Homo sapiens: one gene and its partners. The protein of the gene in region 2 interacts with the protein of the main gene of each other region in a pairwise test. Each region holds a gene or a part of one and is shown on either strand. Other genes may lie near its edges. The genes, in order: AGGF1, DHX15, KRT75 and RBM10.

The links.
Region 1: the proteins of DHX15 (region 2) and AGGF1 interact in binary tests that used the Homo sapiens proteins (3 or more experiments, as listed by UniProt).
Region 3: the proteins of DHX15 (region 2) and KRT75 interact in binary tests that used the Homo sapiens proteins (3 or more experiments, as listed by UniProt).
Region 4: the proteins of DHX15 (region 2) and RBM10 interact in binary tests that used the Homo sapiens proteins (3 or more experiments, as listed by UniProt).

Annotation. Positions count from the first base shown.
Region 1 is NC_000005.10:77,026,432-77,033,412, forward strand, and holds the start of AGGF1 (angiogenic factor with G patch and FHA domains 1), read left to right. Parts: upstream 1-3,972; 5' UTR 3,973-4,335; coding exon 4,336-4,545; intron 4,546-6,981. UniProt on the Homo sapiens protein: Promotes angiogenesis and the proliferation of endothelial cells. Able to bind to endothelial cells and promote cell proliferation, suggesting that it may act in an autocrine fashion.
Region 2 is NC_000004.12:24,539,531-24,546,556, reverse strand, and holds part of DHX15 (ATP-dependent RNA helicase DHX15), read left to right. Parts: intron 1-3,530; coding exon 3,531-3,617; intron 3,618-4,534; coding exon 4,535-4,684; intron 4,685-5,608; coding exon 5,609-5,717; intron 5,718-6,257; coding exon 6,258-6,449; intron 6,450-7,026.
Region 3 is NC_000012.12:52,431,365-52,438,397, forward strand, and holds the start of KRT75 (keratin, type II cytoskeletal 75), read right to left. Parts: upstream 3,008-7,033; 5' UTR 2,941-3,007; coding exon 2,443-2,940; intron 1,889-2,442; coding exon 1,674-1,888; intron 703-1,673; coding exon 642-702; intron 275-641; coding exon 179-274; intron 1-178.
Region 4 is NC_000023.11:47,176,207-47,183,232, forward strand, and holds part of RBM10 (RNA-binding protein 10), read left to right. Parts: intron 1-293; coding exon 294-380; intron 381-2,896; coding exon 2,897-2,957; intron 2,958-3,112; coding exon 3,113-3,289; intron 3,290-3,339; exon of another isoform or gene 3,340-3,575; intron 3,576-3,673; coding exon 3,674-3,834; intron 3,835-4,005; coding exon 4,006-4,103; intron 4,104-4,212; coding exon 4,213-4,300; intron 4,301-5,008; coding exon 5,009-5,195; intron 5,196-5,300; coding exon 5,301-5,440; intron 5,441-5,542; coding exon 5,543-5,660; intron 5,661-5,744; coding exon 5,745-5,836; intron 5,837-5,955; coding exon 5,956-6,120; intron 6,121-7,026. UniProt on the Homo sapiens protein: Binds to ssRNA containing the consensus sequence 5'-AGGUAA-3'. May be involved in post-transcriptional processing, most probably in mRNA splicing. Binds to RNA homopolymers, with a preference for poly(G) and poly(U) and little for poly(A).

The DNA of each region.
Region 1 (6,981 bases), on a different chromosome or scaffold from region 2:
ATGGCGAGCTCAGAACTAGGCCCATATATAAAGATGGGAACCTGATGGAAGATGATGGTGGTACTACAAAGCAATGCAAAGGGGATGGTCTTGAGAAAACTAGGTCATGTCTGAATACCCCCAGCTGGAATAGAGAACAAATGTGAAAGTTCAAATTATAAGATCAATAGAAGAAAATATGACTTGGGGTAAGGAAAGTCTTCATGAAACCCTACACTGTAAAGCCAAATAAAATTTTAAAAAGTAAAATAAAATAAAGACTGATTTCATGACATACAAATTAAGAACTCCTGGCTAACAAAGAACACTGGACAAAGCTAACAAATATATGACAAACTGGGAGAAGATATCTGTAATATCTAAAACTGATAAAGAAGGAATACCTTGTTTATATAAAGAACTGCAAAATAACAAGAAAGAAATGGGCAAAAAGATATGGATAGGCAATTCACAGAAAGGAAAGGACATATAGCCATTTCAACATATATACATTTCAACAAATGTATGAGATTCTCTAGTAATCAGAGGAGTATCAATTAAAACAGCAAGGAAATAGCTCATTATATTCATAATGGCAAAAAGTACAAAAAATGGTTCATATCATTTATTGGAGAGGATGTGGGAAAAAAACATTACAAAACAAAATCAAATCGTGAAGGGTGTCAAGTAGAATGCTTTTTTAGGGCAGCGCCTCTGCCCACTATGCTAAGTACCTCTTAGATCTGAAAACTAGGTGTGGCAAAGACTGCTATTTACATACTCAACATGAATTTTGCCCTTCTTCCTTACTTGTAGAACCCCTATATTATTAGGAGAATAATGCGTCTAGCTTAGAAAAACACACATATACACATAATTCCCAGCCCCACTTGCAGCAAGGGGTGGCTATTGATAGGTAGACAGGAACCATTGAGTGGGGCTTTGGGAAAGTCCTTTCATCCCTTGCCATCTTGCACCATGGATCGACCTGGAGGCTCTGGAAACATGCTCCGAGAATAGCAGAGCAGAAAGACATACCGAGCCTGGGTCCCTGAAGAACTGTGGAGTCACTGGCCATGGACTGCCCCTCTCTAGGCTTCTGTAATGTAACAGGATAACACCCTAATTTGTTTAATAAGCCACTATAGACCACCTCTGATACTAGCACCTTAATGCAATTCCTGATATTCAAGGCTTTTTCTAAAAAAATGTCATTCTTTTCTAATGGTCAGAGGTAGGATACAGACTGGTATTACAAGGTAAAGATAACTTAGCCTTGAACAGATTAAGACAAATAAGAGGAGCACTGCTTCAAGTAGCAGTCAATAAGCTTATTTATTTTTTCTCCAGTTAATTACTAAAAACTGAAATATCATCTTAAAGATACCTTTCAAATGGTATTTATGGAATTTCTTATCCCCTAAAGAAAATAGGTGGAGAAAGTAGAAAATAGCATCTTTTTAAAAGGACTTCAATATGTTCATTAATGGAGTCATAATGCATCAAGGGAAGTCAGAAATTTTTTGCAATACATCTTTTTTTTTGCATCACAGGGGACATACCATGTCTTCTCACTAAACTTCCTTTGATGGCTTAAGGTTACTCTTGACATGACAATAAGGTAGAATCTCTATGTTTCCAGATACAGTGCCTTGTGAAGAACTCTTCAGGCCTAAGGAGGAATGTGTACAGGCCCTAGAGAGGGCAGGTCTCTGCTGGAAAGCTCACTGTTTATGAATAATCTAGTGGGCAGTGCACAAGACAAAAATACATACAGAGCCATATTTTAAAATTTAGATTTTATTATTATTTATGTATGGTGAGGCCAACAGATCAGGAGATGGTCTGCTATCAAAAAGACAGTTTATTATTCACCCAGCCCAAGAGGAGGATGCACACCAAGCCACACAAGGCAATGTGGAGAAGCACCAAGGTCCAAAGGAGGCAGAAGGAGTGGGAGGAAACATGGCAAAAAACATTATGTGATTTTTGCAGGAAGGAATGGACAAATCAGGATAAGCAGGTTTAGTTTGCATAATTTCAGTGGGATCTGAGATGTAGGAGTTGTTCCTAGTTGTCTGGTACTTTGCCCTGGAGTGATTAGGGCAGGGGAATATTGGCATGGAGTGTAACAGCCTGATAAAGAAGGTAGATGATCAGTGTGTGGCATGCTGGGTGAGTTGTTTGCTATGTCTAGGAATTAGCTAACCCTTGGAGGGGTTATCTCCCTGGTCAGGGAGACCCCAGATGCCAGAGCATCAAGAATACAAAAAATAAGAAAATATAGTTAATGGAAGTGGCCACTGATCTAAGACACCAAACAGGATTCTCTTGTTCAGCTGTGTTCAGCATTTACGGATACTGCTCTGCGACAGGCACTGTGCTGGGCCCTGAGAGAGGAGCATCTGCATGACACAGCTGCTGACCTCCACAAATCTCAGGCCCAGGACTCTGAGCTCATGATCTAATTCTAAATGACTTTGGCAAAGGAAGGAAGTGTGTTCCAAAGAAGGCCACATCAGTTTAAATATTGGCAAACCAATGCCAGGGTCATGCAGACAAAAGACCAAATAAATGCACCAAACCAGAGCATTTTTCTCCCCTTTTCCACAGAATATTGTCTCTCTCTTATTTTCCCACCAGGGATGCTCCTTTTTGCGACTCAGACCTAATGTACTTGCTCTATTTTCCCGGGGGGTCTAAACTCAGGAACCAGAAGAATGACTAAATGAGAAATAAAAGTAAAATTCTGAGCCCCTGAACTGACTGAATAGACCCATTGTTCACTACATAGAAAGCCAGTCATTGAGACAAGGAGTATTGCCAGGGAAGAAGGTTCTATTTGGGTGCTGCAGCCAAGGAGAATAGGAAATCAGTCTCAAATCCATCTCCTCAACCAACTAAAATTAGAGGTTTATATGGCAAGGGAGAAATGTGACTACATGTGAGAAAACAGGAATTAGTGAGCGGTAAGGATGAGGACTTGTTCAACAGGCAGCAGGTGGCTGGTTAGGCAATCATGATGGGTGAGGGGTATGGTGCCTCATTGTCCAGATGCAGTGATCTGGTAAGTTTCAATTCCTTGATACTATCTGGGAGGCCTCATGGTTGGTTTCCCAAGAAAGGAACTCAGATAAGAAAGATGTAACTTTCTGAAGTTTTAAGACTGGGAGGGTAAATTTCCAGGTTTATTCAAAAGAAACCATAAACATCAGTTCTATAGGACAGTTGGGCTGATTTCACACCAACCAGCATTCCTTCCTGATAAGAGACCACCAACCACAGAGAAGTTCTGGCCAATCTACCAGGGACTCACAGCGAGGGTTTTCATGTCCTCTGCTTTGCCATTTGACATCAGAGGGCTGAAAACTTCACACTGGGATCATGCTAACACCACCATTTTTTGAATATGGGTCCCATAGAGAGGCAGGAAGCTTAATTGTGCATGTGCATATTTCTCCTTTCATAAATATTCATGAATCCTCCTACAGCTCATTGAATATATTTGGCCACCCTGCTCAGCATAAATTTCTGTTCCCTTTGTCCTTCCTTCCAAGTGTCTGTTCTCAGCTTCTGACCAGAGGCTATGCTTCCAAGCCTGTCAGAAAGGCCACCCTGCAGGCTGTAACCCTTCATGAGAAATAAAGCCCTTTTCTAAATTTATTAACCTCCTCATTCTTCAGTTGACATAAGTAGAGCATCATAGTCCCCACAAATCATTTCTGGGATACTCTGTTCTTATTTGTAAAACAAGGAGATAGGAAATGCATGCTATACTAAAAGTTTGTTCAAAGAACATCCGCACGTGCAAATGTCTGAGACCAGAGGCTGCAAGCCTCCCTGTCGCTCTTAGGGCTTCGGTAGCCACATTGCCACAGCTCTCCACGCCCTCAGGTAACGCCCCTCCGCAGGCCGAGACGTCGGCACGTACACTGTCAGGTCTTCCCGCTTTCCGTCGCTTCCTGTTCCGTCTTGGTCCCGCCTGCCGCTGGCGCCGTTGTTTCCGGCTCAACTGGGGAGCTGCTGGAGCTCTTCTGGCCTCTGGTTTTCCGACTGCTTATCCGACGCTCCTCCCTCTGTCTCTGTAGCTGGAGAAGGTAGTTTCCAGGAAAGTTTTCCGGTTTGCAGGCCGCGCACATCGGGCAGGGGCCATCCTCGGTCCCCTTGCTCGTTGCTCGCAGCCCCGTTCGGCTACAAGTGAGTTTCAGGGCGTCATGGCCAGGGGCCACCGCGGCCAGCCGGGTGTGAGGCTGCCTTTCGCTGCCCGCGCGCTCCAGTGGTCTCTGGGTCCGCCGGCGTCCGTTTCGGCCTGAACGCAGCCCCTCCGCGGCGACGAGCAGTCTCGCGCCGGAGCTCATGGCCTCGGAGGCGCCGTCCCCGCCGCGGTCGCCGCCGCCGCCCACCTCCCCCGAGCCTGAGCTGGCCCAGCTAAGGCGGAAGGTGGAGAAGTTGGAACGTGAACTGCGGAGCTGCAAGCGGCAGGTGCGGGAGATCGAGAAGCTGCTGCATCACACAGAACGGCTGTACCAGAACGCAGAAAGCAACAACCAGGAGCTCCGCACGCAGGTGCGCGGTCCTCCTCAGCCCCGCGCCCCATCCAGCCCAGGCGAGGCCTTCGAAGCCCGTGATAGCCTCGGAAGGGGTCCCTGGCAGGGGCTCAGAACTACTGTAGAGTACTTAAAGTAAATAAGTAGAAGCTCAGCGCAGTTACAATTCCAAGTACCTTAGGAGCAAACCTGAGTTCAGGTTACTTGATTTAAATCAATGTCTCGCGGCTGGCGTGAATTGAACTTAAGTACTGTGGCTACATTGTCTTCATTCTCACTTGACCTAACATCCCATTGGCAGTAGGCGCATTTACTGTAGATCACATTTGAGTTTATTAAAATGCTGGACTTGAGTCAGAATCCCATCTCTGCTATTCACTGGGTGTGTGAACTTATATACCGAGTCTCAGTTCCCCATTAAATGAGAATGATAGCTCACAGTAGTAAAGGTGAAGTAAAACAAACAATTTTACAAACTTTTGAATGCTATACCTGTTTAAGGTTGCTCTTCTGGGCGTTTATCATCTTCGGCTTTCTTGTGTAAGTAGGGACGATATATAACTGCTTTTGTTGGAGACGTTAAGCAGCTTATTTCGTTTCCAAGATGGTAGGGGCAAATGTTAATACTTAAACTGTCACATTAAAAACAACCTTGGCTGGACGCGGTAGCTCACGCCTGTAATCCCAGCACTTTGGGAGGCCGAGGCGGGCAGATCACCAGGTCAGGAGTTCGAGAGCAGTCTGGCCAGCATGGTGAAATACAAAATTTAGCCGGGCGTCTCTACTAAATACAAAAATTAGCCGGGCGTGGCGGCGGGCACCTGGAATCGCAGCTAGTCGGGAGGCTGAGGCAGGAGAATTGCTTGAACCTAGGTGGTGGAGGTTGCAGTGAGCCGAGATCGTGCCACTGCACTCCAGCCAGGGCGACAGAGTGCAACTCTGTCTCAAAATAAAAACCAAAAAACCAAGAGCATAGTATTTTTTTCTACCTTGTTGGCAGGCCCTCTCTGCCAACAGATTATTTCCACATAGTAACTAGTTTCAATTTGACCGTTGTCTAGTCCTTCATAATTTATTGGTGGTTTCCTAAAACCAGTATATAGGCTGAACACTGAAACGTCATCAGACTTCTTTGTTTTGTTACCAAATGGACTATGAAAATAACTGTTGAGTTGCAATGACTTTGTATGACCATTACATGGAGTTCCTGACATGACATTATTGGAAAGTTTTTGTTTAGTCAATTTAAACACCTACGGTGTGTAATAACTATGCTAGGAAAATACAAATATGGTAAAAAAAAAAAAAAAAAAAAAACAGGGAGAGGTGGCTGGGCGCGGTGGCTCACGCCTGTAATCCTAGCACTTTGGGAGGCCGAGGCGGGCGAATCACGAGGTCAGAAGATCGAGACCATCCTGGCTAACACAGTAAAACCCTGTCTCTAGTAAAAATACAAAAAAAATTAGCCGAGCGTGGTGGCGGGCGCCTGTAGTCCCAGCTACAGGCTGAGGCAGGAGAATGGCGTGAACCCGGGAGGCGGAGCTTGCAGTGAGCCGAGATTGCGCCACTGCACTCCAGCCTGGGCGACAAAGCAAGACTCCGTCTCAAAAAAAAAAAAAAAAAAAAAAATGGGGAGACGGGAGCAAAATATAACAGCCTTTTTTACATGACAGCCTTTTGAAAAGCTCCTTTATAATTCTAAATTGTTGAAGTACTGCTTGCGTTAGAGATTCTAAAAGAAAACGTTTTTTGCTAATCTTCAGAGAGCCAGCATTTTGGTGTTACTGTTAATTTGATAAATCAGACTAAATGATGGGACTTTGTGAACAGATCCTTTATTTCTTACAGAAAAGAATGTTTTTATGCTAATATTTTGAGAGGTCAGCAATTCTCCCTAAAGAATTAGAAAATTTAAGAGCTATCAATTCCCATTCATGTTATCTAATATCATTCAATGTTCACGTGGATTTAGTTATTAAATGTTAATGCCTCTTATAAGCTTTAATACACTTTAAAAAAATAGTAGTTCTGTGACTAAACTGCAGCAGAAGCGAACAGAAGGTAATTGCCTGAGAGGATCATCTGTCCTCCACATGCCTCCATTTTAGTCCAATATTAAAAATTTAATCTCATAGAAAGTCTTGACTCTACTTTGAATAGTGATAACTCCTTACTCTCCTAGTCAGCCTCCCTTGGTTGGGGAGAGGGTGGATTCGATTAACTGTCATTCCAAATTACTGAATGTGTTTTATTTGGAGCAGTTAAAAAGTTTTGCTTGAGAATGATAACTGGAGAACCATAATATGTATAGGGTTTGTACAAGACCCCAAAATAGCCTTGTGCAAATTACTTTGTCTTGTCTGATATTTTATGTGTAAAATTGGGGTTAGGACAACGAATATTTCAGGTGGTTTTGTGAATTAATGAGATGTTATCTAAAGCATCAAGTATAGTG
Region 2 (7,026 bases):
TGAAGTTTATTCAAGTATTTGACTAAGTTAAAAGTTACAGTAATTCTTTACATGCATTCAAGTTTACTCTTCAGTAGATAACTTCTGCATTTTTTGACTGAGACTTAAAATTGCTATTTTGTGGATTTGGTTGTTATTAAAATACAACTATAATTATTTTTTAAATATTTAGTGTTCATTAATTTTGTTCATACAAATAGCTGACTTTTCTATAGTTGATCCTACATTTCGCTGATTAATATGGTTCAGAGCATACATTGCTCAGTGAAAAAGAGAAATGGCCCTTGTGGAGATGGTCCTGTAGTTTTAAAGAAAGACTTAATGATCCAGGATCTGAAGATAGCTTACTGTGGTGCTGCTGGGATGTTTATAAGCAAATAAGTTGATGTCCTTGTGTTGGAGACCACCACAGAGTTCCCTGGGGACTAAAAGTCCAAATTAGTTTAAATGCATTATTGTGTCCAGACAGTATTCAGGTAGGGCAAATGAAGTACTGCGAGTTCTACTTTGAAGTGGAGTTATTGGGGGCGGAGTGGGGGGAAGTGGTTCTATTAGAAAAAAAGTGAGTTCTATTAGAAGGCAGGTTATTGAGGGAGGAAAATTTACTCTTAGCATGTCCTGACAGTGATGCCAAGCTTTTCACCATAGGGTCTGTTCCATATTAGTCAATGCGGTTTGAACACTTTTTAAGGCTCTTTGAACGCTTACTGCAGTGTTGCAGTCTAGAAAGCATGTAACAATTATATTGATTCTTACTGGTCATAATGTAAATCCCTTGACAAATTCAAGGTCATTTTGTCTCCTGATGGGTTCCTGGTTGTATGGTGTGCCATTTACAATTAGAACATGGTTAGGGCTTGCCTCACTCAACTGCTGAAGTACCAAAGAAGCTTTTATCTTGTCATTTATTAGTTCGCTTTTGCATTGTGTGTGTGTGTATTTAGCCTTAGCTATTTTTAGTCCTTGAGAAAGGCCTAAAACTTGTGCTTTTTTGTTAAGGACTCAATTTAACACTTGTATTTTAGGGTTTGACTTTTGGCTGGCAATAGGCTCTTACTAATATCAATAATGACGAGGGTTTGCCAAGTTGGCATAAATCATTTGATTCTTAAACACTTGCAGAATCATGTATCCGCGAATTGTTAAGTATTACAGAATTTAATACACTCACCCAGACAAAAAACATACACACAGGATGAAATTATTTTGTGGAGAAAAATTAACTTTTTATAATGGTAACTAAAGAGTTGGTCACATGAGAAATTTTTATCACATTGTATTATGTTATAGAAGAAATATGTGAAATGTATTTTTTCCCAGAACAACTTTTTTAAAAGTGATTTTCTTCATAAATATTTTCAGAACTATGGTTTTCACCCCAGAATTCCAGAAAGCCAGAAGACGTCTTCTGTATTTACAGGCATGTAGTTGGTTCTGTATAGATTTGAGATAGGGTCTCAGTCTGTTGCCTAGGGTGGAGTTCTGTGCCATGATCATAGCTCACTGCAACCTGAACCTCCTGGACTCAAGCAGTCCTCCCACCTTAGCCTCCTCGGTAGCTGGGACTACAAGCATGTGCCACCATGCCTGGCTAATTTCTTTTATTTTTTTGTAGAGGTGGGGTTTTACTATGTTGTCCAGGCTTGTCTCAAACTCCTGGACTCAAATAATCCTCCTTGGCCTTTTTAAGTGCTGGGATTACGGATGTGAGCCACCATGCCTGGCCTATTCTGTATAGTTTATAGAGCATTTCCACATCCTTACATAATTTATTCCCTACAACCCTGTGTTATGTAGACTAAGTAATATGCAAGTTATAAAAGGAATACAAGCTTGGGGGTGTTAAAACCTTTCCAGTTACTTTAGCCACTCAGGTTTGATTGCTAGGTCTGCCAGTTACCTCTAAATTCATCGCTTCTTTAACTACAAGAAACTGACTTTCTAGAATATTAAATGCCGGTTATGCTTATTCAAGTTTCACCTGTTAACCTTATGTATGTCGTTGTTTGCTTCAGTTCTAGTTGCTGATTATTTTTCTAAATGTCCTGAAGAATGTATTTCAGCAACATCATCAAACCACATGTGGTTTCTTATTCCTTTGCTAGTTGTCAGTCTTTTCAACTGACAAAAGGAAACATTTTGGTTTTTGACTTGTAAATTATTCTGAAATACCCTCTTGGTAGATTGCTATTATGTTTTTAAATCCCTGAGGTTTCCTGTTAGTATTTTGGGAAGTCTACTACTTAGTAAATATGAAATCAGAAAATGAAAGTGTTAATATTAAGTAAAATAGTTAATGCAGCAAAAGCCTATGATTTTTAAAGCTATTTGATTTATAAAATTAAGTGTTTTTAAAATAAAATAGGGATAAATATAAATCTTTTCATTTTTTGTATGTGCCCATAGGCATTTCTCCCACATGTGTTTTTTTAAGATGGAACTTTAGTGCTAGTGCTGTTTCCTTCTCTCATGAGTAGGTCTTAACCTTACCGTCAAGGACTGTCCTAAATGCTATTATTTTTCAGTAAAGCTTTTCTTGACTTTGCTATGGAAGTAAACCTTTTTAAATTTCACAGTGTGTCTTTGGTGCCACTCACACTTTCTATCCATGTCTAATCATCCCTTACAAATGGTAAAAGCAGACTCTGTTTGATTCATCTTCTGTATCAATTGCTTGCATATACAGACATCTTCAACTTAATATCAGTAACCTGTTCCTGAAAATCATGTCCTGAGTTAAAATACTAATGAGGAATCCCCATTTCCCATTGTTTAAAAAAAAATTATATGTAACATGTATTTCCCAAGTCCTTAACTAATTTTCTAAAACATATGTAATATATAGTAAAACATGCACGTATACCAAACAAGCTATCATATTAGTATGTAAATGCTTTAAACATTTTCCGTCAATAAAGAATTATAGTTCTTAACAGTTGCTTTGTATGTAGTAACGTATTACATGTCATCCCGTTGAGACCATGCACTTACCGAAATATTTACATTTGATTCTGCTGATCTGTCCATTCTTACTGGATTATAACTTGAGTTTTTTTCCATGTGGCATTTTGTTTAAAATGTTGAGTTGAATTTTGGTGATATAAATAACGAAGTTTTCATTTGTAAATATTGCCCAAAAACATTGAAATATACACTTGTGGAAATTTGAATACTAATTATAAGGGCTGTTTTATCAGACGTTTTGTAAGGCACGTTATATTGCTTCATCAGTATTTTTCTTTTTATGCTGTCCATTAATTTGATTAAGCAAAATGTAATGCGGTTGAGTGATAACCTGAAGTAATAGCTTTGTTGAGAAAGAAGTTGCTGTTGTGGTGTAAACAAAATTTTGGTTCCTTAAATATTAATTTACCTTTTTAAAGCATTGGCCATTGAAGATCAAATGATATTTCTAGTTTATTTGCTGGCTTGAAATTCCTTGTGTCAGTGAAAGTTAGTGGCTGATCTTTAACAGTCCTGTTAATTTTATTTGATATGTAATATAATTTATATACTCTATTTCTTAACAGGTAGTTGTGTCAACTAACATAGCAGAGACGTCTTTGACAATAGATGGTGTGGTGTTTGTGATTGATCCTGGATTTGCGAAACAGAAGGTACATATTTAGTGGATACTTTATAAATTAGAGTTGGTTTAACAGTACTTACAACCAATTCATTTAATGGCTAAAATTTACCTTTCAGAATTATTTTCCTATCTTTTTTTTTATTTGCAAATTTCTGCTGTATGAACCCTTTATGTTTTGGCTGGCTCTCAGAAATTAAGACAGTATTTAATATGTAATTCTAGGCTTTTTTTTCTTTTAGAGTTGCTTTGCTTTCTTTGTTTCAGTGTAGTGACGGTGGGTGTTTTGGCTTGTATATTCATTTAACAGTATGGGTTTAGTAATAAAGTACAGGATTTCTATCCCTGCAGTTCAGTCACTTCTCCCAACATTATTAGAGTTACTGCTGTCAACTAGGCACACTATTTGAAAACAGTACTATGTTACTCCTCTAGTTTAACAGTGCTGTATACTAAATGAAGTGAAATGCAGGTGAAGTGGCTATTCAATAAATACGTTTTATTTTTCAAATATCTTTTGGATAAATTGATTACATTTTGTTATTGATGGAAATTTTTTCATTAAACAGTAACAGAGTAATAGTACTCAGACCGTCGAGTTTTGAAAGTGAAGGTTTCTTTTCGGGCAGAATCCTTGACTGCCCAGCATATAAAAAGCAAGGAACAAGGTCAGCCTGATAGAACTGAAATTAGGAGGAGTAAGGATTATATAAGCTGTGTGTTTGACAAGAAGTTTTTCATGTTAGAGTCTTTCAGATGATCGAATTAGAATGTCTGAAAGAACTTTAAGGTTCAGGATGGTGGGTTGTCTATTGTAGCAGCATGATTTATGGCTATCGATATTTCTTTATTTATTTTGGAATTAACTGTGGGCTTTGGATACTTCTGTTGCATCACAATTTTGTGTTTGACTGAAGAAAGACTCTTGTGTTATTTCAATTCCAATAGGTCTACAATCCTCGAATCAGAGTTGAGTCCCTTTTGGTGACAGCTATTAGTAAAGCTTCAGCTCAGCAAAGGGCTGGTCGAGCTGGACGTACCAGACCTGGAAAATGCTTCAGACTTTACACAGAGAAAGCTTATAAAACAGAAATGCAGGTATGGGGTATTGTCGTTTCCTGCCGATATGTTTAAAATGTTAGGTTGAATTATCTTACCAGAAGAACATTGCCTTATTTACTTAATCTTGCCTTTTAGGATTAAAAGCTCCTTAGCTTTTCCAGGAGTGAAATGTATGGTGTAATTAACTTAGATAGTCGTACACCCCCTTATTCCAGGCTGATACATTCCAAGACCCTCCCCCTCCCACGCCTAAAAACTGGAATATGCTGAACCTTACTTACATATACTATGTATAAATATCTTTCTTTACAATTTCACTGATAGAAGATGCATTCTTTCTTTAGATGTGATTTTTTTGCTCTTTTGTTACTAGGTTTCAACTTTTTTTCTTTCCTTACTAACTTTCAGCGTTTCACTTAAAGGAAGCACTTCAGGGCCTCTCATTGGCATATCCAAATTGCCAGCATCAATATTCTTGGCGCTTTGGGGCCATTATTAAGTAAAAGGTTACTTGAGCACAAGCACTGTGATACTGCAAAAGTTGATCTAATAACAGATGGTTGCTAAGTGACAAATGGGTGTATAGTGTATATAGCATACTACTAAGAATGGTGCACAATTTAAACTTGATGAATTTTTTCTGGAATCTTTAAAATTTTTTCTGTTGACACTGCTTAACTGAAACCATGGAAATTGCGAGTTCAGATGAGTGAAGACTACTATACGAATTTCTTTCTGCAGTTGCGAGTTTTATGGACAGTAGCAAACACTGAATACTATAAAGATAGTTGGAGAAAAATGGTTTCTCTCTAGTCTAGCCTACAAGTATTTATCTCTACTGAGACAGTGTAGAAGTAATGCCAAAACAAATAGCTCAGGAGGCAGCAGATTTTTGTTTTCTGGAACGAGGAGACTGAGGCATTTTTAACATAACCAATAAATGTTTTTGTTCTTTGCTAGGATAACACCTATCCTGAGATTTTGCGTTCTAATTTAGGATCAGTTGTGTTACAATTGAAGAAACTTGGTATTGATGACTTGGTACATTTTGATTTTATGGATCCACCAGGTATGACTTATCAAAACACATTTTTATCAGATCTTTTAACCAAAATTGACTCTTAGTGTTTTTCTCCATCCTATTTAATATATGTATTAAATACATTTTGCTTTTTCCATCCAGTATGCATCAAGATTAAGTCTTACATGATAGCATTAAAACTAAAAAAGGTGACAGTTATATGAGCACATTTTTTTTTTTTCTTCAAAAGTTATTATGGGGGGGTTTGGGTAAATTGAATTATCCTCTGGGCATGAAAATGTGAGAATTCCTAAGTTTTCTTTGGGGAAAAACAGTTTGATAAACACATTGATGAATTAGCAATTATTTAATGTATTTCGGAAGAAGACAGTTTTGCCTACAGGAAAATTTTGCAATGTTTTTATGATTCATTGTTTGCTAGATCTGTATAATTGAATTGGATGACAGTTTGAGTTTGAGTTTGGTCCACTGCAAAATGAAAAATGAGATTGCTTATAATAGTTTGTACTTTGTCACATTTTTGCTTGCTTAAGGCACCGTGTCTAATAGATTGTCTTTTACCACTAGCTCCTGAAACTCTGATGAGAGCCCTGGAACTTTTGAATTACCTGGCTGCTTTAAATGATGATGGAGATCTGACTGAATTGGGATCCATGATGGCAGAGTTTCCTCTAGATCCACAGCTCGCAAAAATGGTTATTGCAAGTTGTGACTACAACTGTTCTAATGAGGTCCTATCTATTACTGCTATGTTGTCAGGTAATAGAGGGAAAGGAACAAAAAAAAGCCCAGCTCTTCAAAGTTTGGGTGGACTTCACTTTTGTTTTTGTTTTTTAATTTTTAGTATGATAGTGGATTTTATAGATGGTTTTAAGGAATTAATTTTGTTTTCTAAATACCTTGTAAATAGCTTCGTAATGACATAGTGCTTACAAAAGTAAAGTAAGTCATTGTGCACAAAAGATAAGTAAAGCATTGGCTCTCTTGAGTGCTAATAAAAATTGCAGTAAGTTTGAGCACAGTTGTAACTGAATTCTTTGGTTAAAGGTCCATCACTGCTATCTTTGTGGTTTTTTTGTTTTTTGTTTTTTACTGCAAGTACAGGAAGAACTTTGCTCTAGTACTTAGCTCTATTAAGTGTGCCTGTGACAAACTGAAAGCTATACATTAAGTTGAGCCTTTTCTATATATGTACTCCAATGGCACCCGAACAAACATGAATTTCAAACTTCATATCAAGTAAATAGAAATAGTAATGTATAATTTTAGGCTTAAAATCTAATCTGATAATGGTATTCTTTTACAATGGTAGAAAAACTTGGTAAAAGAAACATAC
Region 3 (7,033 bases), on a different chromosome or scaffold from region 2:
TTTAGTATGACAAGGCTCCAAGTGGTTCTCCCTGGTCCCCCTACCACCCAAGCCCCAGCTTGAAGTATCCAAGCAAGATGCTGGGCAGAGGCACTGAATGAATGAATGGCACAATGCATCATCCTTTTCTTTCCAGGCTCCAGACCTAGGAGAGACAGAAATACTTGCAGACTCTTACTGCATCAAAGACTGAGTGGATGAAGTTGATCTCCTCGGGCAGAGATTTGACCTTGGCTTCCAGCTCCACCTTGTTCATATAGGCAGCATCTACGTCCTGGAATGACAGCGCAGGATGCTCCTTTGAGTCTGCAGCCCCAAGTATCTAGTCCAAAAGAAGCTGAGCAGATTTCTCCCCAGCCCATCTAGTTTGGATTTTAGAAAACTCTGGGTCTGGGTGATTTGGGGTTGGGGATGGGTAATTACGGAGAACTGGGGGCTTGAATTCCCTGAGCTCACAGAAACCCAAGTAGGGCTAATGGGGCCATCAACGTAGAGGGAACATGTTGGGAGGTTTGAACTCTGCAGATATTCTCAAGGTTGATGTGACATTTCTTGGGTGGCCCAAGGGTCAGAGGTCAGGTTACCCCACACTCCAGATTCCATTTTAAACCTTCTCCTTTGAGAGAAACATCCCCACTCACCTTTTTCAGGGCTACAAATTCATTCTCAGCAGCTGTGCGCTTGTTAATTTCATCTTCGTACCTATAAGGACAGAGCGGGGGGTGTGCTGTTGAGCAAGTCTGCATTGAACTCTTTCCAGGCTGGTGTAGCAAGAGTTAAGAGCCCTCAAATCATTTCCAGCTCTTCTGCTGACCTGGGCATGACTTTGGGTGATTCATTTAACCTCTATTTCTCCCTCCATAAAAGGGGGATAATTTCTTCTGCTAGTTTTTAATAAACTTTTCTAAGAGTAGAAGGTGAGCATGGAACTTAAAGGAATACAAAAATATACTTATGCAACTCCATCTTTTGATAGATATGCAATGCTAATCTAAAATGTTTTTCCACCTCAAGTGTCTACCGAAATCGTGGAGTAAACTTTATCTGTTCAGCAGGCTGTTTCGGGTAGATTTTGATATATTTTCACTGAACCTCAGGGTGGCCCCTGAGAAATATGCTTTTTGTAACTAGGGGTAGCTCAAGCTTAGAAATAAGGGCAAGCTGGCTAATGGGTTAGTCTGGACCAAATCCCTTTCCACTGGATACCTCACCTACTGCAGCCTGGATGATGTGCAGTCAAAAGTTTCCCCCCACAAGAAAAGTCAGATTGCCCTCCTTTAAACTCTTCCTTGTTACCTCTCTTCACTCTACAGTGAATGCCATCCTGGAAATGCAAACCATCTCAATAATTGAGCCCATGTCCAATGGAATTAAACAATATGCTGACTGTGAAATTACATTATGATTTCTAGAGTGAGTAGCAATATTTTGTCGGATGATGTTGATATCCCTTTGCAGTCATGTGAACAAATAGGAATAGGATCTTCATAGCAATACACAAGATGAAGGTCCTTGTGCTACCCCACACAGTGCTGTCTCCACCTTGCAGGATAAAGGCTGCAGTTCCAAAGCTCCCGGCTGATATCGGCATTTGCTCCTTTGCACCTCTCTGGTCCTCACACAAAGGAGCCTTCAGATGGCTGTGTGTGGCCAGAAGCCAGTCTCCCACTTACCTGACTTTGAAATCTTCCACAACATCCTGCATGTTCCTCAGTTCAGCTTCAAGCCTGCCCCTCTCGGTGGTGATGCTTTCCAGCTGCCGTCGGAGCTCACTGGTATAGGAATCAAAGAGGGGCTCTAGGTTCTGCCTCACAGTCCTGGAGCCCTGCTCCTGCAGGAGGGCCCACTTGGTCTCCAGGACCTTGTTCTGCTGCTCCAAGAACCTCACCTGGAGGGAAGAAGAGAGAATGAAACCTTGAGAAGTTGGAGAGGCAGAGTTAGACACTCCTATTAATAAGGGAGAGAAGAAAAAGATATTTTTTTCACTTGGCACCCATTGACAATAATGTAACTGACAACTCCAACCCAAAAGGAGGCAGTCCATGGAGCTACCGCAAAGTTCCCTAGGGCTTGCATAGGATTCGGGTGGTGGGGCCTAGAGGCTTCTGTTGGGGAGCTGCTCTTGGGTTAAGTTTCTCAACACCACCTACTCTGGGTTAGGGTAGTTTGCTGAGCAGCAACTCTCCTGTAGAGAATCAACAAAACTCTTCCCTTGGTGTTGACTGAACCAGCCCATGTGGCTCCGAAAGAGAGGAAATTTCTACCAGGTCCTGTGGGGCAAGCTGGCCTGACTTGGAAGGGTCTCAGCCCCTGGGAGCCCGTGCTGAACAGTGCTCATTCCCACAGTGGGGTCATTGCATTATTGCTCTCCCCCCATGGGATGGCCCTTCCAAGAGTTTATTTGATCCCAAACCCAAGGGGGTGGATGAAGCCCCTGCTTACCTTGTCGATGAAGGAGGCGAACTTATTGTTGAGGGTCTTGATCTGCTCGCGCTCCTCGGCCCGCACCCGCTGGATGGTGGGGTCGATTTGCAGGTGAAGAGGAGTCAGGAGACTCTGGTTGACAGTGACCTCTTGGATGCCTCCAGGGGGACACACGGGGAAGCTGGGGCCACTGAAGCCTCCTCCAACTCCACCCCCATAGCCAAATCCACTGTTGACTCCAAACCTGTTGCTGGCCCTGCCACCAAAGCCACTTCGGCAGCTGCTGCCACACCCATTGATGGAGACCCGCTTGGCACCCCCCAGGTTGTAGAGGCTGCGGCTTCCAAAGCTGGCCCCAGCACTGCTGATCCTTCCCAGGCCCCCACTCCCTGCTGCAGAGCGGGCCACAGAGACAGAGCTGAAGCGGGAGCGGCCAGCTGCCGGGGTGATGGCCGAGGTGGTGCTGAAGCCCCTGCGGCTGCCAGACTGGAAGGTGATGGAGGACTGCCGAGACATGGTGGGTGAGGAAGGCCGGCGAGAAGGCACCTGAGGTGGGCTGGTACAGGCAGTGGAGAAGACAGGTGGCTGGAGAGCCCTGGTCTCGTGGCTTTTATGAGCATCCTGTGGGGGCGGGGCACTGCTAGTGGAGAGGGCCTTCTGATGGCATTCCCTGGGCATCCGCCAACCCTGAGCTCACACTCGGCATCCCTCGGGAAATGGTGTAAGGGCCACTGGCTGGTTCCCTGGCACCCCCTCCCCACAACGTGCAAACTCCTTTCCAGTTGCAACTTGATCAGCATATGAGTAAGAAGCAAGTTAATTGCTTTCCGTCATGTGCTAATGATGCATCTTGTAAAGGACTCAGCAAACACTGCCTCATTTCTAAACCGCTTTCTTAGGCCTGGGACCAACTCCGTCCTGTCCAAACATCTTGTGTTAATACAAGCCACTACACTTCACTGTTTCCTTGGGGTGCTTCCTATTCCCTAAGCATTTTCTCAGCACCTACTGCCTGGTTCCCCAAGCCCCATCAAGCTGTCTTTCCAAACCTTGAAGGTCGCGCTCTGTAATCATCTTCCTTAGGAATCCACCCCATTTTGATTGCCCCTTTATTCTGCTCTTAAGCTTCCGTGTCTATTGTGTAGGTCACACATGGTTTTCTGGAGTGTATGTGTGCCTGTGCCCTGCCCACTGCAATATAATGTGACTCTCAAGGCCAGCCAGTGCTCTGTCTCCTGGGAAGAGAGGTTGTGAGAGGAGAAAGACTCGGGTTTGAATCTCAGACCTGCTCATAGTTGTGGGACCTTGAGCAAGCCATGAAACTTTTCTGTGCCTCAACTTTCATGTCTGTAAAATGGGGTTTGTAATGAATATTCACATGTGAAAACTTTCGCAATGCCCGGTATATGTAAGTGCTGAGTAAATGTCTATTGAGGCTCCCCTCTTTCTGATACAATCAAGTAATATTAAGGAAGTGCCAACCATGTCCATCCTGTGACTAGTCCTGTGGGAATTCAAAAGAAACACAATGCACATTATTTATCTTCAACAAGCTCATGGTCCTGTTGGGAAGATAAAACTGTACAAGATGGTGTACCATGAATCATCACCTCCAAGCTGCATTTGAGGCTGCCTATCCCAGAAGTCTCCCAGGCAGTTTCCTCCTCCTCCTGAGGACCAAGAATTCCTAGCTCTCCAGTCCTTCATCAAAAGAGCTCCAACAGCTGCACCTAGCAGAGGATTCGTTCCTTCCCTGTTTCTCCTGTTAACCTTGTAGACTGTGCCCTACATTCTATATTAGTCTACAAACCGCAAAGAAGACTTCAAGGCACCTCATCTCTCTGTTCTGCAACTCATTGCCCCATCTCTACCATGGGAAGAGTCAAACCAAAACATTGCTGAATCTTCTTTTTTTTTCTGCCTTGAGACAGGGTCTCACTCTGTCACCCAGGCTGGAGTGCAGCAGCTCAATCTCGGCTCACTGCAACCGCCACCTCCTGGGCTCAGGTGATCATCCCACCTCAGCTTCCTGAGTAGCTGGGACTACAGGCATGCTCCACCATGCCTCTCTAATTTTTTTACTATTTTGTAAAAACTGGGTGTCGACATTTTGCTCAGGCTAGTCTTGAACTCTTGAGCTCAAGTCATCCATCCTCTTTGGCCTCCCAAAGTACTGAGATTACGGGCTTAAGCCACCGCGCCTGGCCTGAATCTTCTTTTATCTTGCTGCCTGCTTTCTTCTTGCTGTGGTTTTGAAGCCTGGGAGAGTAAGAGAGGAATTAATCAGCATTCAGTCTCCATTTCGTGGATGAGGGCATTGAGCCCAGAATGGTTAACTAGTCAGACAGACCCACAAGAAGCAGAGCCAGATTCCATGGTCTTTCCACACAGGTGTCCTTTTAGGGGCACACTGGTAACCGACCATTTGGCAGATGTTCTCACCTGCCTGGAATGGCAGCTTGGCACTTGGAGCGGTAGTTCTTTGTTCTCTAAACTGTTTCCTCCTTGGGACTGAGGCCCGGGGGTAAGCCTCTCCCCCATCTAGAGATTATTTGGGAGTCTCAGTTTCCACAGGAAAGATATGAATCATAGCTTGTGTTGATACAGGCCAGGAAGAGCAGAGGAGTTCCTTCACCTGGTTCCGTTGCCAACCCCAGCCAGGGTGGTGCATGGTTCTCAAGTGGAAAGAATAATTATGTTTGTTTTCTGTACTCTTCATTGCATGATAATCTGGCCCCCAGAAGAAAGGACACTTGTTTCCTGAGCCATACTGAGCAAACGCTTGCAGAGCTTTCCACAAAACAAAGGTCTTGGAGGGTCCAGGCGTGGTGAGTGGCTGGGCCAGCATGCCCACGGGAAGGGAGGTCCCCAGCCTTCTCTCACCATGCTTCCCACGTGGGAAGCAGGCTCCAGGCTGCCTTCCCTCCCAGCCATTCCTTTCTTTCCCATGTCCCCTGCTGGAGCCCTCTTCCCAGGCACTTCATCTCATTCTGTTTCCATTCTGGTTTTTCTCAGCCATCACCTCTTGCCTGGGGCTGCTCATTTATTCTTTTCCTCCTTCCCCTCTAGTTTTTCCAGGACTGTTGTTTCTGAAGCTAGACGGTCTTACTCACAGGCTTTGCCGAGTTAGATTGAAATAGAAAGATCGTTCACCTCCCTTCCTCCTCCACTCCCTCTTCTGTGACCTTTGACCTGCACAGTGACCTTTATCCTGGTGGTCAATATCTAGAAGAGTGCCTGGGACACCTGGCTTCCCTGACAACTTGTGTCACCACCCTTTTAAAAATCTCAAAACTCAAGGATTGTTAACAACTTCTTCGCTTTCTGACATTTTTGTTTTGTTTTTAACCTCTTTGTAATTCTGCTTACAACTTATCCCTAAGAAGTCATCGAAGGTGAACTGGGCCCAGCACTACCCCTTAACGCTGTTTGCCTGGAATGCCTGTGTCTGGCATGCCCTTTGATGTCTTCGTTTTCTGGTGGTACGAGTGTTGGTCCACTTCTGAGGGTTGGGCGTTTTCCTCCCAGCTCTGACTAGCCTCCTAGCCACCCCAGATAGAATTGTGGCAGAAGTCTGTGTGATTCAGGCTGTCTAATTTAAAGAAGAACTACACATTCCTTTCTGTTCTCCAGTCTTTCTGCAGCCCTCTCCATCTCTGTGTTATTGGGTCTATCTGAGAGGAGTTTTCTTGAGTTTGGAGAAGTGCTGGATTCAGGGGCCATGGTTTGTGCTCTGGTGCGTGAGGCTGGGAGAGGAAAACTCTTCAATTTCCCTGTTCTCCGCCCATCCTGCTCAGGGTGATCTCTGTTATCCTGGGAGGAACACTAACGTCCTTCGCAGGTGGTGGATCCCAGGACATGGGGCCAGGTGGCGATCAGGGCTGTGGAGGAGGAGAGGAAGTGGGTGGGGGATGCCTCTTCCACAGATGAGGAGTGGGGAATGCCCCAGGGAGCTTTGGCTTCCAGCCAGGCCAGGGCCAGGGCGGGGCCACCAGGGCTAAAGACCATGGGGCAGCAGGGGTTACCTCCCTAGAGCAGGCTGGCCTGAATCATAGAACCAGGGGCCTGGGCGCAGCATCTGAGGACTTAGGCCACAGCCACCTGCCCCCGATTCCTCGACTGCTAGACTTCCCAGACTTCTCCTACTCTCTGTGGAGTCCTGGCTTTAGTGAGTAACTATTTATTAGCATCTATAATATGCCAGGCACTCGCTGTTCTAGCACAGGAGATACAGCAGTGAAGAAAGCAGCCACAACTCCCTTCCCTCCTGGAGTTTATATGGAAAGAGGAGGGGAGCAGAGGTGATTTGGAGGGGCAGACACAATCCGGGTCTCCCAGCTGACACTCCCAGGGGCCGAGTGTGGAGAAGGTAATTCTGTTGTGGACACTCCAGGGGCCGAGTGTGGAGAAGGTAATTCTGTTGTGGACACTCCAGGGGCCGAGTGTGGAGAAGGTAATTCTGTTGTGGACACTCCAGGGGCCGAGTGTGGAGAAGGTAATTCTGTTGTGATGGCACCTGAGACATGCTGGCCAGAAATGCTTTGCCGTCTTCACTATTTGTGCTGGGGTGGCCGCACTTCCTCAATGTTTGGTGTGTCTAATAGGCACT
Region 4 (7,026 bases), on a different chromosome or scaffold from region 2:
GGGTTTCTCCCCACTGTCCGGCAAGCGTCGGTCAGCCGAACACTGTGTGCCTGGTGGTGTGTGTTCACATGTGTGCGTGCGTGTGCCCGGCAGAGCAGCAAACAGCTGCGCCCGAGAGCTGTGGCGCTTTCCCTCCCTACCTCCCTTCTTCCCTCCATCCGCTCTCCGACCTCCCTCCGTTCCCTGTCCCTCATCCATCCAGCTGAAGGGCTCGCTCACTCTCTTCTCCTATGCTGAAACGGTGCGTGGGGCACTGCTGCCTGGACCTCACTGTGCTCTGCTTTTTCCCGCAGCACTCCCTCAACATCCTGGGCCAGAAGGTGTCGATGCACTACAGTGACCCCAAGCCCAAGATCAATGAGGACTGGCTGTGCAATAAGGTACAGGGGCGGTGGGCAGCAGTTGTCATGGACAGAGACAGCAACAGCAGTGGCGGCGATCTCTCCCTTCCTCTCCCGCTCTTTCTCCCTCCATCTCTCCCCCTCCCCCAATCTCTCCTCTCCCTCTGTCTCTCTCTCTCTCTCTCTCTCTCTCTCTCATTCTCTATCCCTTGCTAGCTCAGCTTGAGTAGTCACCATTCCTAGCCAGCCATATACAAATGTGTAGTGAGCGTTCACTTGGTGCAGGCTCTGTCCTCCTAAAATGCAGTCTTGCCTGGAGTTCCAGTAGACTTTAAGGAAATATATACGTGGATGATGAATTAGTGACAGTGTAGACTTGAAGTGGTGGTGTGGAGAATGTGGGCTTCAGAGCCAGACTGGCTGAAATGAGACTATCCCAGATCGGCCTTGATTTTGGCCAAGGTGCTTAGCCTCTCTTTGCCTCACTTTCCCCATCTCTAAAATGTGAATATTAATGACACCTCTCCCAAAAGGTGGTTGGGAGGATTCAGCTGTGTTAATGAGAGAGTAACACTCAGAACAGTGCCTGGCCCACATTTAACACAGTCGAATTGTTAACTGTAATCATGAAAGAAAAGCACAGAGCGTTCTGAGAGCCCATAGCAGGTAGCTCAAGCCTGAAGGCCACTCTGACCAGGCCAAGTCAAACCTGAAACTGGAGGCTGTGGTTTTGTAGTCACCTCTGTCTTCCCTGAGGGGAAGCTGAGGCTCAGAGAGGTGGAACCATGGGTGAACCTTTAGCTGTGCCCTGTGCCTTGCTCCTGATCACAGGGACTTGGATGCCACAGTGGCTTCAGGTCTGCCCTGGGGCCAGCATTGTGATTCCACAGTTTGTAGAGGCCCCAACCCTCTCCCCAGGAAGTACTCTGCCTAGTCAGGGAGAGTGGTGCATCTGTTTTAAAAAAAAAAGTCCCATCAGAGGATTGGTGCTTAACATTTCTGGAGAGATAAAGACAAAGTGACAGTGGAACTCCTTCCTGTGTTTCCAGATAGCCTCAAAACCAGGGAATTCTCTTTTTTTTTTTTTTGAGACAGGATCTGGCTCTGTCGCCCAGGCTGGAGTGCAGCAATCTGGGCTCACTGCAACCTCTGTCTCCAGCGCTCAAGCCATCAGCCTCCAGAGTAGCTGGGACCACAGGCGCATGCCACCACACCCACTAATTTTTGCCTTTTTATTTTTATTTTTTTTGGTAGAGACAGGGTTTCGTCATGTTTGCCAGGCTGGTCTTGAACTCCTGAGCTCAAGCAGTCCTCACGCCTCAGCCTCCCAAAGTGCTGGGATTACAGGCGTGAGCCACCACGCCCAGCCCAAAACCAGGGAATTCTCTTGAACTCCTTCCCCTCCCCTGCATCCTGTTGGCCACCAGGTCCTGTCACTTCCATCACAGAAACGCCACCTTCCCTCCCTCGCCATTCCCGCTGCTCATGCCAATCGTCACGCTCTCACCCACTCACTGTGGAGCCCTCTCTGGTATGCTGGCCTCTTGTCCTCTTTCTCCCACGCCCTCACCTGGAACATTCCTCAAAACCACCTCTGACTACCCACGCCTCTCCTCCTCTGCTTAACCAGCCCCAGCTCAGCTTAAGCATAAGATCCTCCATTACCTAACTGGCTTCCTTCCCCGGCCTTGGCTTTTGCTTCTCCCCTTACTCTCCCACACCAGTTTCGGAAAGTCCATTGTTCCCTCCGATAACAATCCCTCCCCAGCAAGGCTTAACAAAATGAAACTTCTGGGCATCCCAGGTCAAACCTCCCTGCTTCTGTGCAGGGACTGTCCCTGCCGAGTAAATGGCACCCCACCCCCAGCCCATTTCCCTCCCCGAGCCCCTGCTGGATGGTCCATGCAGACCGACCTGCCCCTCTTCATGCTGCATCTGCCCCTGTGCTATTAGGCCATGAGGGCAGAGACCATGTTCTGGCCATGTGCAGCAGGGCCTGGCCCAGGAGTGGTGCTTAGTACCTGAGTCTGGAACAGAGATGGAGTGTGGTAGAAGCTGGGTCTCCAGATGCTGGAACATTCAAGGAAAATTTCTCAAGCGTAGCAGGATCCAACCCAGTCCTAGAGCTAAGAGGAGGGGTGCGGGTCTGGCTACTGACTTCTAGGGCTGAAACACTGAAAGGTTTCTGAATAGAGGAGCAAGTTTCAGGGAGAGGAACCTAATAAAGGGATTGAATACCTGAGGCGGGGAACAGTCCTGGGAGTTGGTGGCCTTAAGAAGGCAGAGGAAGGAGAGGAGGGAGTTGTTGTACCAAATGGGGGAGTTGTTTATTCCTGAGCTGAGTGGGTTGGCACAGAGGACAAATGAGAGTCTGGAAAGGGAAGATGCACAGTACTGAGAACAACATCAGAAGGTTCAGAAGGCACCTGCCACCATTGCCTAGGGGCTTTCCTTCCTGGGGCACTGCGGGGTCCCTGGGAGATCTCTTCATCCAAGTTTGGAGGGTGCAGTGGGAAATCCCTGCTCCCTCTGACGGCCTGGCCTGTGCCTCACAGTGTGGCGTCCAGAACTTCAAACGCCGAGAGAAGTGCTTCAAATGTGGCGTGCCCAAGTCAGGTGAGGCCCACCTACCTCTCGTGCTCTCCAGGGCGGAGCGGTTGGGGAGAAGGGAAGGGTGAGGGGTCTGTGCTCAGGGCTTGGTATAGGGAGGAGGGTGACCAGTCGTGGAGCCTTCCCCTTATCACCAGCCTGTCTCCCACTGCCCCTGACAGAGGCAGAGCAGAAGCTGCCCCTCGGCACGAGGCTGGATCAGCAGACACTGCCACTGGGTGGCCGGGAGCTGAGCCAGGGCCTGCTTCCCCTGCCGCAGCCCTACCAGGCCCAGGGAGTCCTGGCCTCCCAAGCCCTGTCACAGGGCTCGGAGCCAAGCTCAGAGAACGCCAATGACAGTGAGTCAGTTGTTCCTTCTTCCTCTGTGCCCTAGGGTGTCGGGCTGGGCTCACCAAGACCAGAGAAATGGCAGTGAGCAGGACCTCATCCTCATGGAATCTCCACTTGGTGCGGGGATAGACATTTGATGTAGGGAGAACAGGGGGAGTGGCAACATCCCACCTGACTTTGGGGGTGTGTCGGGAAGGTTCTCAGCAGACAGGCAGCCAGGCTGGCACCTGGACCGCCAAGCAGAGTTGATCCTGGAGGAAGCAGTGAGGGAAGCGGCAGTTGCAAAGGCACGGAGTGAGTGGGGGCAGAGGAAAGGGAGCAGTGGGGGCATTGAAGGGCAGGGCTGGCAAGAGTGCCAGGGGTGTCCTCTAACATTGGGCCCCTTCCCACAGCCATCATTTTGCGCAACCTGAACCCACACAGCACCATGGATTCCATCCTGGGGGCCCTGGCACCCTACGCGGTGCTGTCCTCCTCCAACGTGCGCGTCATAAAGGACAAGCAGACCCAACTGAACCGCGGCTTTGCCTTCATCCAGCTCTCCACCATCGTGGTGAGGGCGGCACAGTTGGGGGCCGGGCAGCCAGGGTCCCGGCCCCCGGGGTGGAGACGAGGGTCCTTTTCCCCAGCCTCCCACCGCGGCTGCCAGCCTGGAAATCGGGCAATGGAGCCGGGGGCCTCCCCGGGCCTGACCCTTCTGTCCCTGCCTCCCCTCCTCCCACAGGAGGCAGCCCAGCTGCTGCAGATCCTGCAGGCCCTGCACCCACCACTCACTATCGACGGCAAGACCATCAATGTTGAGTTTGCCAAGGGTTCTAAGAGGTCAGGGCCCCACCTGTGTGCCTTCCCACCCTTCCCCTCCCCACCCTCCCACTCCCCCCTACCGCTTGGGGCCTCCTATCTCACTCCCAGTCTCTAACATCCTCCTCAGGGACATGGCCTCCAATGAAGGCAGTCGCATCAGTGCTGCCTCTGTGGCCAGCACTGCCATTGCTGCGGCCCAGTGGGCCATCTCACAGGTACTCAGACCCCTTGTGCCTCCCAGCGTCCTGAGACCTGGGCTTTCTCAACCCTCCTGCACCCTCTCTGAAGCAGGAAGGCTGGCTTGCTATCCATGGATGCAAAACCCTCTCCCAGTAGCTGGCATGGCTATTCTACCTTGCTCCTGGCTCTCTAGACCCCCTGGGACATTCCCCTTCATCATCACCGCAGCTTTCTTCCCAATTGCCTCCCATGCGCTCATGTACGACGCCATTGTGCCTGGCATTCTGTGCTGTTTGGTGGGGTTTTTATTGTCCTGAATAGGTATGATATACACATATCCTTATATGTAATATATACATATATGATATACACGTATCATATGTTCCTGAATAAAAATAACGTATAAGTGGTTGAGAGAAAATTGGGAGAAGAGAATAAAGAAGTAAGAAGATGGTGTCTTCCTTGGCCTGACACCCAACACACACGCCACACACAGCAGAATCAGCAGAATCAGCCCTGGAACATTTTGGCGTTCATCTGTTTTTCTGTCTTGTGTTTGCCACTGGCCTATTTGTTCTCTTGTGGCCAGGCAACCCTCGCTTTCCACTTGTCTTAAGGCTGCATGCTTTGTCTGTCAGGTAGAAATACTAGCCCCACGTGTGGGACAGATGCTTCTAGCAGGTTCCCCACCCCCCACCCCCACACCTTCCTGTTCTAATGAACCCCTCCCACCTGCCCTTCAGGCCTCCCAAGGTGGGGAGGGTACCTGGGCCACCTCCGAGGAGCCGCCGGTCGACTACAGCTACTACCAACAGGATGAGGGCTATGGCAACAGCCAGGGCACAGAGTCTTCCCTCTATGCCCATGGCTACCTCAAGGGCACCAAGGGCCCTGGCATCACTGGAACCAAAGGGGATCCCACTGGAGCAGGTGAGCCCCAGCATCTCTCTCTGCAGCTGTGGTGGGGGCCAGCAGGCATAAAGTCCCCGGCCCCATTATTCACAGGCATTGTCCCTGCCCTGTCCCTCCTTACAGGTCCCGAGGCCTCCCTAGAGCCTGGGGCCGACTCTGTGTCGATGCAGGCTTTCTCTCGCGCCCAGCCTGGTGCTGCTCCTGGCATCTACCAACAATCAGCCGAGGCGAGCAGTAGCCAGGGCACTGCTGCCAACAGCCAGGTGAGTGAGCCCTGTGGGTATGTATCCCGGGGAGGCAGGCAGGCGGCAGGGGTGGCATGGGCAGACACTGAGCCCTGTTCTCCTGTCTGGCCCCATGACCAGTCGTATACCATCATGTCACCCGCTGTGCTCAAATCTGAGCTCCAGAGCCCTACCCATCCTAGTTCTGCTCTCCCACCGGCTACCAGCCCCACTGCCCAGGAATCCTACAGCCAGTACCGTGAGTAGCCACAGCCTGTGGGTAGGGGTGGGGAGTTCTTAATAAAGCAGGGAATAGTGTGACCCCGTTCCCCTCACCCCCTAGCTGTTCCCGACGTCTCTACCTACCAGTACGATGAGACCTCCGGCTACTACTATGACCCCCAGACCGGCCTCTACTATGACCCCAACTCCCAGGTAATAGGGCAGCCCAGGGAGGGATGGGATCGGGTCAGGTCGCGTCAGGAACAGCTAGCCCTGCAGGTTCCCTTCACAAGGTCTTCCCTCACATCCCCTCTTCCCTCCTCCTCCCTCAGTATTACTACAATGCTCAGAGCCAGCAGTACCTGTACTGGGATGGGGAGAGGCGGACCTATGTTCCCGCCCTGGAGCAGTCGGCCGACGGACATAAGGAGACAGGGGCACCCTCGAAGGAGGGCAAAGAGAAGAAGGAGAAGCACAAGACCAAGACAGCTCAACAGGTGAACACCAGGGTCCAGCAGTCACTGGCTGGCTGTGTGGTGTCTTCCAGCAACGGCACTCTGTCAGCTCTTGCCCTCTCCTGCCAAGGGAGATGGCGGGCAGGTGTGGATGTGGGCAGTGACTGCTTAGCAGACCATGCTCTTGCCCCAGCTCTGCTCTTTGCTGAATGGCCTTGAGCCAGAGCAGTCTCCTCAGTGTGTGGCAGGGTTGCCCAACTCCAGGAGGTGGCTTGTGCCATCCGAGTGAGCCCTGTCAGGTGTCTTCTGTCCCATGGTGGGGACCCTCACATTCTGCTGGTGAATATACATGTATGCCAGAGAAATTCTCACAGGCCATAAGGGGGTGGGCAGGAAAAAAGCCCTGCAATGTTTTGTGGGAGTGGGCAGATGGAGGGCACCTCAGTGTCTCTCTGTGGAGAAAGGGTGTGACACTGTGAGCGTAGCGTTTACAAGCAAGCACTAAGTGTTACCTTAGCAACCTGATGAATTCTAAAAATGGTGCTGTGCTGGGGGGAACATGGAAATATAGAATGTGGCATTGTGTCATGCATATAAAGTTATACACAAATAAACATTCCTATGCATTTTTAAATGATAAAATGGAAATGCACAACAAATGTGACAGCGTGGGTGTATGTCAGGGGAAGAGGAGTGTCTTCATCCATTTGCTGCTCCATAACAATACCACAGACTGGGTAATTTATAAGGAAAAGAGATTGATTTGGCTCACAGTTCTGTAGGCAGGGAAGCCCAGTGGTGTTGGCATCTGGTGAGGGCCTTCTTGCCGCATCATAACATGGCAAAGGGCAAGAGAGCATGCATGAGAGCAAGAGAAAATTGGGCCAAACTCCCCCTTTTTATCTGGAACCCACTCAGTGATGGCATTAAATGGAGACTCAAAAGGTG